Homo sapiens: one gene and its partner. The protein of the gene in region 1 purifies or fractionates together with the protein of each later gene. This does not show direct contact. Each region holds a gene or a part of one and is shown on either strand. Other genes may lie near its edges.

The links. The genes of interacting proteins can lie anywhere in the genome.
Region 2: the proteins of BLVRB (region 1) and ACADM purify together in Homo sapiens (affinity purification with mass spectrometry; one large-scale study listed by BioGRID and IntAct). This does not show direct contact.

What each region holds. Positions count from the first base shown.
Region 1 is NC_000019.10:40,452,246-40,455,745, forward strand, and holds part of BLVRB (flavin reductase (NADPH)), read right to left. Parts: intron 1-3,500. UniProt on the Homo sapiens protein: Enzyme that can both act as a NAD(P)H-dependent reductase and a S-nitroso-CoA-dependent nitrosyltransferase. Promotes fetal heme degradation during development.
Region 2 is NC_000001.11:75,727,709-75,731,208, reverse strand, and holds part of ACADM (medium-chain specific acyl-CoA dehydrogenase, mitochondrial isoform a precursor), read right to left. Parts: intron 2,821-3,500; coding exon of another isoform or gene 2,809-2,820; coding exon 2,721-2,808; intron 1-2,720. UniProt on the Homo sapiens protein: Medium-chain specific acyl-CoA dehydrogenase is one of the acyl-CoA dehydrogenases that catalyze the first step of mitochondrial fatty acid beta-oxidation, an aerobic process breaking down fatty acids into acetyl-CoA and allowing the production of energy from fats.

The sequences.
Region 1 (3,500 bases):
GCTCCAGCCAGGTTCTGCCTCCCAGCCTTGGCAATGTCTGATTCCTCTGCCCCTGATGCATTTCCCTCTCTTTTTTATTTTCTCTGAGACAGGGTCTCATTCTGTTGTCCAGGCTGGAGGACAGTGGCGTGAACACGGCTCACTGCAGCCTTGACTTTCTGGGCTGAAGTGATCCTCCTGCCTTAGCCTCCTGAGGAGCTGGGACCACAGGGGTGAGCCACCAAACCCCACTATTTTTTTTTTTTTTTGAGACAGAGTTTCCTTCCCTCTTGCCACCCAGGCTGCAGTGCAATGGCATGATACCGGCCAAGCCTGGCTAATTTAAAAAATTTTTTTAGGCCGGGTCTGGTGGCTAACCCCTGTAATCCCAGCACTTTGGGAGACTGAGGAGGCCAGATCGCCTGAGGTTAGGAGTTCGAGACCAGCCTGGCCAACATGGTGAAACCCCATCTCTAGTAAAAATACAAAAGTTAGCTGGGCATGGTGGTGCATGCCTGTAGTCCTAGCTACTCAGGAGGCTGAAGCTGGAGAATTGCTGGAACCCTTGAGGCGGAGGTTGCAGTGAGCTGAGATCGCGCCACGGCACTCCAGCTTGGGAGACAGAGCAAGACTCCATCTCAAAAACAAAGCAGAACAAAACAAAACAAAACAAAAAAAACACAAAAATTAGCCAGGTGTCGTGGTGCATGCCTGTAATCCCAGCTATTCTCAGGAAGCTGAGGCAGGAGAATCCCTTGAACCTGGGAGGCAGAGGTTGCAGTGAGCCGAGATCGTGCCATTGCACTCCAGCCTGGGTGACAGAGCAAGACTCCGTCTCAAAAGAAAAAGAAAAAAACATTTTTTTTGTAGCGATGGAGGTCTTACCAAGTTGCCCAGGCTAGTTTTGAACTCCCGGGCTTAAGCGATCCTTCCATCTCGACCTCCTAAAATGCTGCGATTACAGGTGTGACCCAGGACCCTTTGCCATTTCCCTCTCGTAGCCACATGGCTCCCTGTTTTCTTTGCAGACTTTGCTCAAAGGTCACCTTTCCATGCAGCTTTTCTTGACTGTCCTGTTTAAAATTGCAAAATCCTGTCTCCCCCAGCCCAGTTTACCAATCCCTTTTCTTGGGGCCTTGTTTTCTCCCTAGGACCCTTCCCCTGCCACCACACGCTAGAGTTATCCTGTGACTCTATCACATTTCCTGCTCCAATCCCAGCCCTTAGAAGCATCTGGAACATTGTAGGTACTTACTAAATATTTGTTCAGGAATTAGCTTTCAACAAGCTATAACTTGGCCAAGCTACACCAGCTGACATTTATAGAACTTTTACCTCAAGCCAAGAACTATGCTAAATATTTTTAGGAGCAGTTTGGTGAATAGTTAAAGAGCTTGGGTTTTGCCTAAAGTCAAGTACTGGATCGACCACTGGCCAGCTTCTTGTTTCCTCATGTGCAAACTGGGATGATATAAATTGTTCAAAGGCTGGGCAGAGTGGCTCACACCTGTAATCCCAGCACTTTGGGAGGCTGAGGTAGGAGGATCAGTTGAGCCCAGCAGTTCTAGACTCACCTGGGTACGATGGTGAGACCTGTCTCTACAGAAAATTAAAAAATTAGCCAGGCGTGGGGACCTGTGGTCTTAGCTGCTTAGAAGGCTGAGGCGAGAGGATCGCTTGAGCTCAGGAGTTCGAGGCTGCAGTGAGCTGTGATTGCACCGCTGCACTCCAGCCTGGACAACAGAGCAAGACCTTGTCTCAACAAAAAGAAATAAATAAATAGTTTGAGTAATGTTAGTGGTTATAAAAAGGTGTGTCACAGAGACCAGCCTGGGCAACAAAGCCAGACTCTGTCGCAACAAAAAAATTTTAAAAATTAGATGGGCATGGTGGCACATGCCTGTGGTCTCAGCTACTCAGGAGGATCCCTTGAGCCTAGGAGTTGGAGGCGGTAGCGAGCTATGATGACATCATTCTCACTGCAACCTCCACCTACAAGTTTCAAGTGATTCTCCTGCCTAAGCCTCCTGAGTAGCTGGGATTACAGGCGTGTGCCACCACACCTGGCTAGTTTTTGTATTTTTGGTAGAGACGGGGTTTCACCATGTTGGCCAGGCTGGTCTCGAACTCCTGACCTCAAGCGATCCACCTGCCTTAGCCTCCTAAAGTGCTGGGATTACAGCGTGAGCCACTGCGCCTGGTCTAGGATTTCCTCTTTACAGATGAGAAAACTGCGGTGCAGAGTGTGAAGTGGGTTTTTGTCTGCAGCCTCCAGTCTCCAGTTCACAATCTCAAATCCAGTCTCTAACTTACCCCTAGTTTCTTTTTTCTTTTTTTTTTTGAGGCAGTCTCGCTCTGTCACCCAGGCTGGAGTGCAGTGGCACGATCTCAGCTCACTGCAAGCTCCTCCTCCCGGGTTTACGCCATTCTCCTGCCTCAGCCTCCCGAGTAGCTGGGACTATAGGCACCCGCCGCCACGCCTGGCTAATTTTTTGTATTTTTAGTAGAGACGGTGTTTCACTGTGTTAGCCAGGATGGTCTCAATCTCCTGACCTCGTGATCCACCCACCTTGGCCTCCCAAAGTGCTGGGATTACAGGCGTGAGCCACAGCACCCGGCTGTTTTGTTGTGTTTTGAGACAGGGTCTTGCTCTGCAGCCAAGGCTGGAGTGCAGTGGTGCCATCACGGCTCACTGCAACCTCTGCCTTCTAGGCTCAAAGGATCCTCCTACCTAAGCTTCCCAAGTATTGGGGACCACAGGTGTGTACCACCACACCCAGCTAATTTTTTGTATTTTTTTTTTGTAGAGATGGAGTTTTGCTGTGTTGCCCAGACTGGTCCTGCACTCCTGGACGCAAGCAATCCGCCCACCTTGGCCTCTCAAAGTGCTAGGATTACAGGCGTGAGCCACTGTGCCTGGCCTTACTCTGGGTTTCTTTCTAATCCTCTCAGATGCCTCCATAAAAAACAATCCTCCCCAAGCCCTAATGGATAAACTCCAAGCTCCTTAGATGACAAAAATCTTTCTAATCTTTTACCTTGACATTTGAATATGGAGGGAAGATTAAACTCTAATAATTAGAGGCTGGAAGATAATTAAAGTGTGACAATAGCACTGTGGTGCTGGAAGAGAAAAGTCCTTTTTCTTGGGACTTGCCGAAGGTGTCTGTGGGTGTGCAACTCCATTTCAAATAGTTTAGGAAGTCTGGGCGCAGTGGCTCATGCCTGTAATCCAGCACTTTGGGAGGCCAGATCACTTGAGGTCAGACCAGCCTGCCCAATATGGTGAAACCCCATCTATACTAAAAATACACACACACAAAATTAACCAGATGTGGTGGCAGGCACCTGTAATCCCAGCTACTCAGGAGGCTGAGGCAGGAGAATCCCTTGAACCCAGGAGGTGGATGTTGCAGTGAGCCAAGATCACGCCACTGTATTCCGGCCTGGGTGACAGAATGAGACTCTGTCTCAAATAAAAACAAACAAACAAAAAACCCAAATAGTTTAGGAGAACAAAA
Region 2 (3,500 bases), on another chromosome or scaffold:
CTCCCGGGTTCACGCCATTCTCCTGTCTCAGCCTCCTGAGCAGCTGGGACTACAGGTGCCTGCCACCGCGCCCGGCTAATTTTTTTTTTTGTATTTTTAGTAGAGACGGGGTTTCACCAGGATCTCGATCTTCTGACCTCGTGATCCGCCCACCTCGGCCTCCCAAAGTGCTGGGATTACAGGCCCGAGCCACTGCGCCCAGCCAAATCTCTCTTTTTATTGATAAACTAATGCAGAGTAAGGAAATTCTAGTATCAGTCTCACAATGAATTAGCAGAAGTATACTTAAGAATTTCAGTCCAGTGTTCTCTCTATCACAGCTTTACTTCTAAGATTGGTGCCAGTTGATAGCAATCTTGCAGGTAGATAGAGGGTAGAGAAAGTCTGGGCACGGTAGCTCATGCCTATAATTCTAGAATTTTGGGAGGCTGAGGCAGGTGAACCATTTGAGGCCAGGAGTTTGGGGCCAGCCTGAGCAATATAGCAAGATCCTGTCTCAACAAAACATTTAAAAATTTAAAAAATCAGCTAGGTGTGGTTGACATGGACCTATTGTCCTAACTGCTCAGGAAGCTGAGGCGAGAGAATCCATGGAGCCCCAGAGGTCAAGGTTGCATCCAGCTTGGGTGACAGAGTGAAACCCTGTCTCTTAAAAAAAAAAAAAAGGAAAAATGACAAGTATGTATTATGTATTATTTATTGAGAAACTACTTTGATCCAGTCACTAAGTGCTAGGGGCTTTAAATACAGCATATAATTTAATCTTCATAGAAATTCTGTGTTATAGATATTATTTCCACTTTACAGATAAAGAACCAGATGCAACTGGTTCAAGGAATAGACCCGTATTGAACTTCACAATCTCCCTCCCAAACAATTATATCTAACTCATCCTCTGTCACTCAGTGAACCACCATAGATTTCTCCTGCAAGTCTCTTACTACTGAGAGAGAAATTTAAAGTGACAAGCAATCATACCAAATTAATGCTAATTATCTCAGTATGATCCACTACCCTGGCTGGGCATGCTGGCTAATGCCCATAATCCCACTTTGGGAGGACAAGACGGGTGGATCACTTGAGGCCAGGAGTTCGAGACCAGCGTTGCCAACATGGCGAAACCTCATATCTACTAATAATATAAAAATTAGCCAGGTATGGTGGCCCACACCTGTAATCTCAGCTACTTGGGTGGCTGAGGCAGGAGAATCGCTTGAACCCAGGAGGCAGAGGTTGCAATGAGCCCAGATGGAGCTACTGCAATCCAGCCTGAGCAACAGAGCAAGACTCAGTCTCAAAAAAAAAAAAAAAAAAAAAAAAAAATCCACCATCCCAAATGGCTATCCTCACAGTGCTTGAAAACTTTCATTTAGTCTTTGGCTACAGAAAGAGAAAAGAAAAAAAATTTTCATTTAGGTTGGGCACAGTGGTTCATGCCTGTAATCCCAGCACTTTGGGAGGCAGAGGTGGGTGGATCACTTGTCTTCAGCTGTTCGAGACCAGCCTGGCCAACGTGGCAAAACCCCATCCCTACTAAAAATATAGAAATTAGCCAGGCATGATGACCCACACCTGTAGTCCCAGCTACTCAGGAGGCTGGGGCAGGAGAATCGCTTGATCCTGGGAGGTAGAGGTTGCAGTGAGCCACTTGCACACCAGCCTGGGTGACAGAGTGAGACTCTGTCTCAAAAAAAAGAAAAGAGAAAATTTTCATCCAGTCTTTGGCTAGAAGTCACAGGAAAAAAAAAAAAAACACAGAAACTTTTCATTTGGTCTGGGTGCAGTAGCTCATGCCTATAATCCCAGCACTTTGGGAGGCTGAAATAAGAGGACTGCTTGAGCCTAGGAGTTCAAGATCGGCCTGGGCAACATAATGAGACAATGAAACCTCATCTTAAAAAAAAAAAAAAAAAGAAAAAAGAAAGAAAGAAAAAGAAAAGAAAAATTTCATTAAATTCTGGTAAGAAAAAAAAAAACCTTTATAAAGAAAAGGGAAAAATCTTTAAAAAACACAACAAATAATAAAAAAAATAACTCTGGAGAGCTTTGAGATTGTCATTTGTACCTAGCTGTGAGTTATCGCAGCTGCCTTTAACTATTTTCTGAGACCAAATAAATTGAGTAAATGGTTTTTAACTAGAGAAAAAATAAAAATTTTGAAGAAGCACTTTAGAAGGCCAAGAATGCCAAAGATAGATATTATTTCAAATTTTTTGTGTGTAGTTTTCATTTTATAGAGGGCAGAGGAAAAAAAATCATGGCTCCCTGGTCCCAGGAGTGAGAACTTCATCTAATAGTACCAAAATTGCAATTTGGATATATTATAGCAAAAACAAGCTTTAGCTTATTACCAGGCACCTAGAATTGTAATCTAACAAGTGTTTTTAAAATGTATTTGTGGCATTCAGATATGTAAGTTGAAGACTATTCATATATATCAGTAAATCTCATTTATTTTGGGCTAAACACTCAGAAAAAAAGGAAGGAATTTAAGTGTATGTATGCTGCTAAAACAGATCTAATGTACAGTGTAGTATACTGAGGAAGAAAATGAGATCAGGAAGAATGGAGTGTGAGTTATTGTAAATTATCTGTGGACAGTGGACTGGTTCTACTCATTGAAAGACATTATTAAGTTTATTTACAAACATATTCCAAACAAAACATATAAAGCTTCATATGTATAAGTTTAAAGTCAAAAGATAGAACCGAACATATACCAAAACTAAATCCTAATCCTGGTTCACGTTGTCGATTGGCTTTTGTATGCTGTGATCTCCAATGAAAACGAGAAATACTTCTCAGGACCTGTAAAGAACACTTTTATTAAAATAAATTTGATAAGTTAAACATTAATCAGATAAGAGACTACTGATAATCATAAGTGAGTACAGCAACTGGTTTGACCATACTCATAGTTTTTAAAGTCATCACTATTTAAATGCCTTCAATCATAATTTAAATAAGCCAATTATCAGTTATATAAATTCCTATTACAGAGGAGATGTTTTTAAAAAGTAATGAAAATAAAGTCAGTGGTATTTATACTACTGAAGTGGAGGGTTTAGGACAAACAACAGTCAAGGGTAGTAGTAGATGTAGGACCACTATTCTGGGTATCTTACAAGCTCCTAGGACATTAATGGTTGGAGAGTTGGGGTGGGGAGAACGATAGGCTGGAAGTGAACATACTGTGTTCAAGAGTTGCCTAGTCCATCAACTTTGATACCCTGTCACTGTGAGCCTCCCATGCATGCCTCTGGAAACCTTCCCCTCAGAGGATCTCATTTTTTAGGATACCCCACTCTAACAAAACAAATTAGCATAAAACCATGTTCTGTATTTTCTGCTGTCTACAGGGATTCTTACAATGTTCTGAGCAAGGAGTCACCAAACCAGTGCAGCCACATCATGCTGTCTATTGCCGCTTTCACAGCAGATCTAAGTAGTTACCACAGAGACCATCTGGTTCACAAAGCCAAAAACATGTACTATCCGTT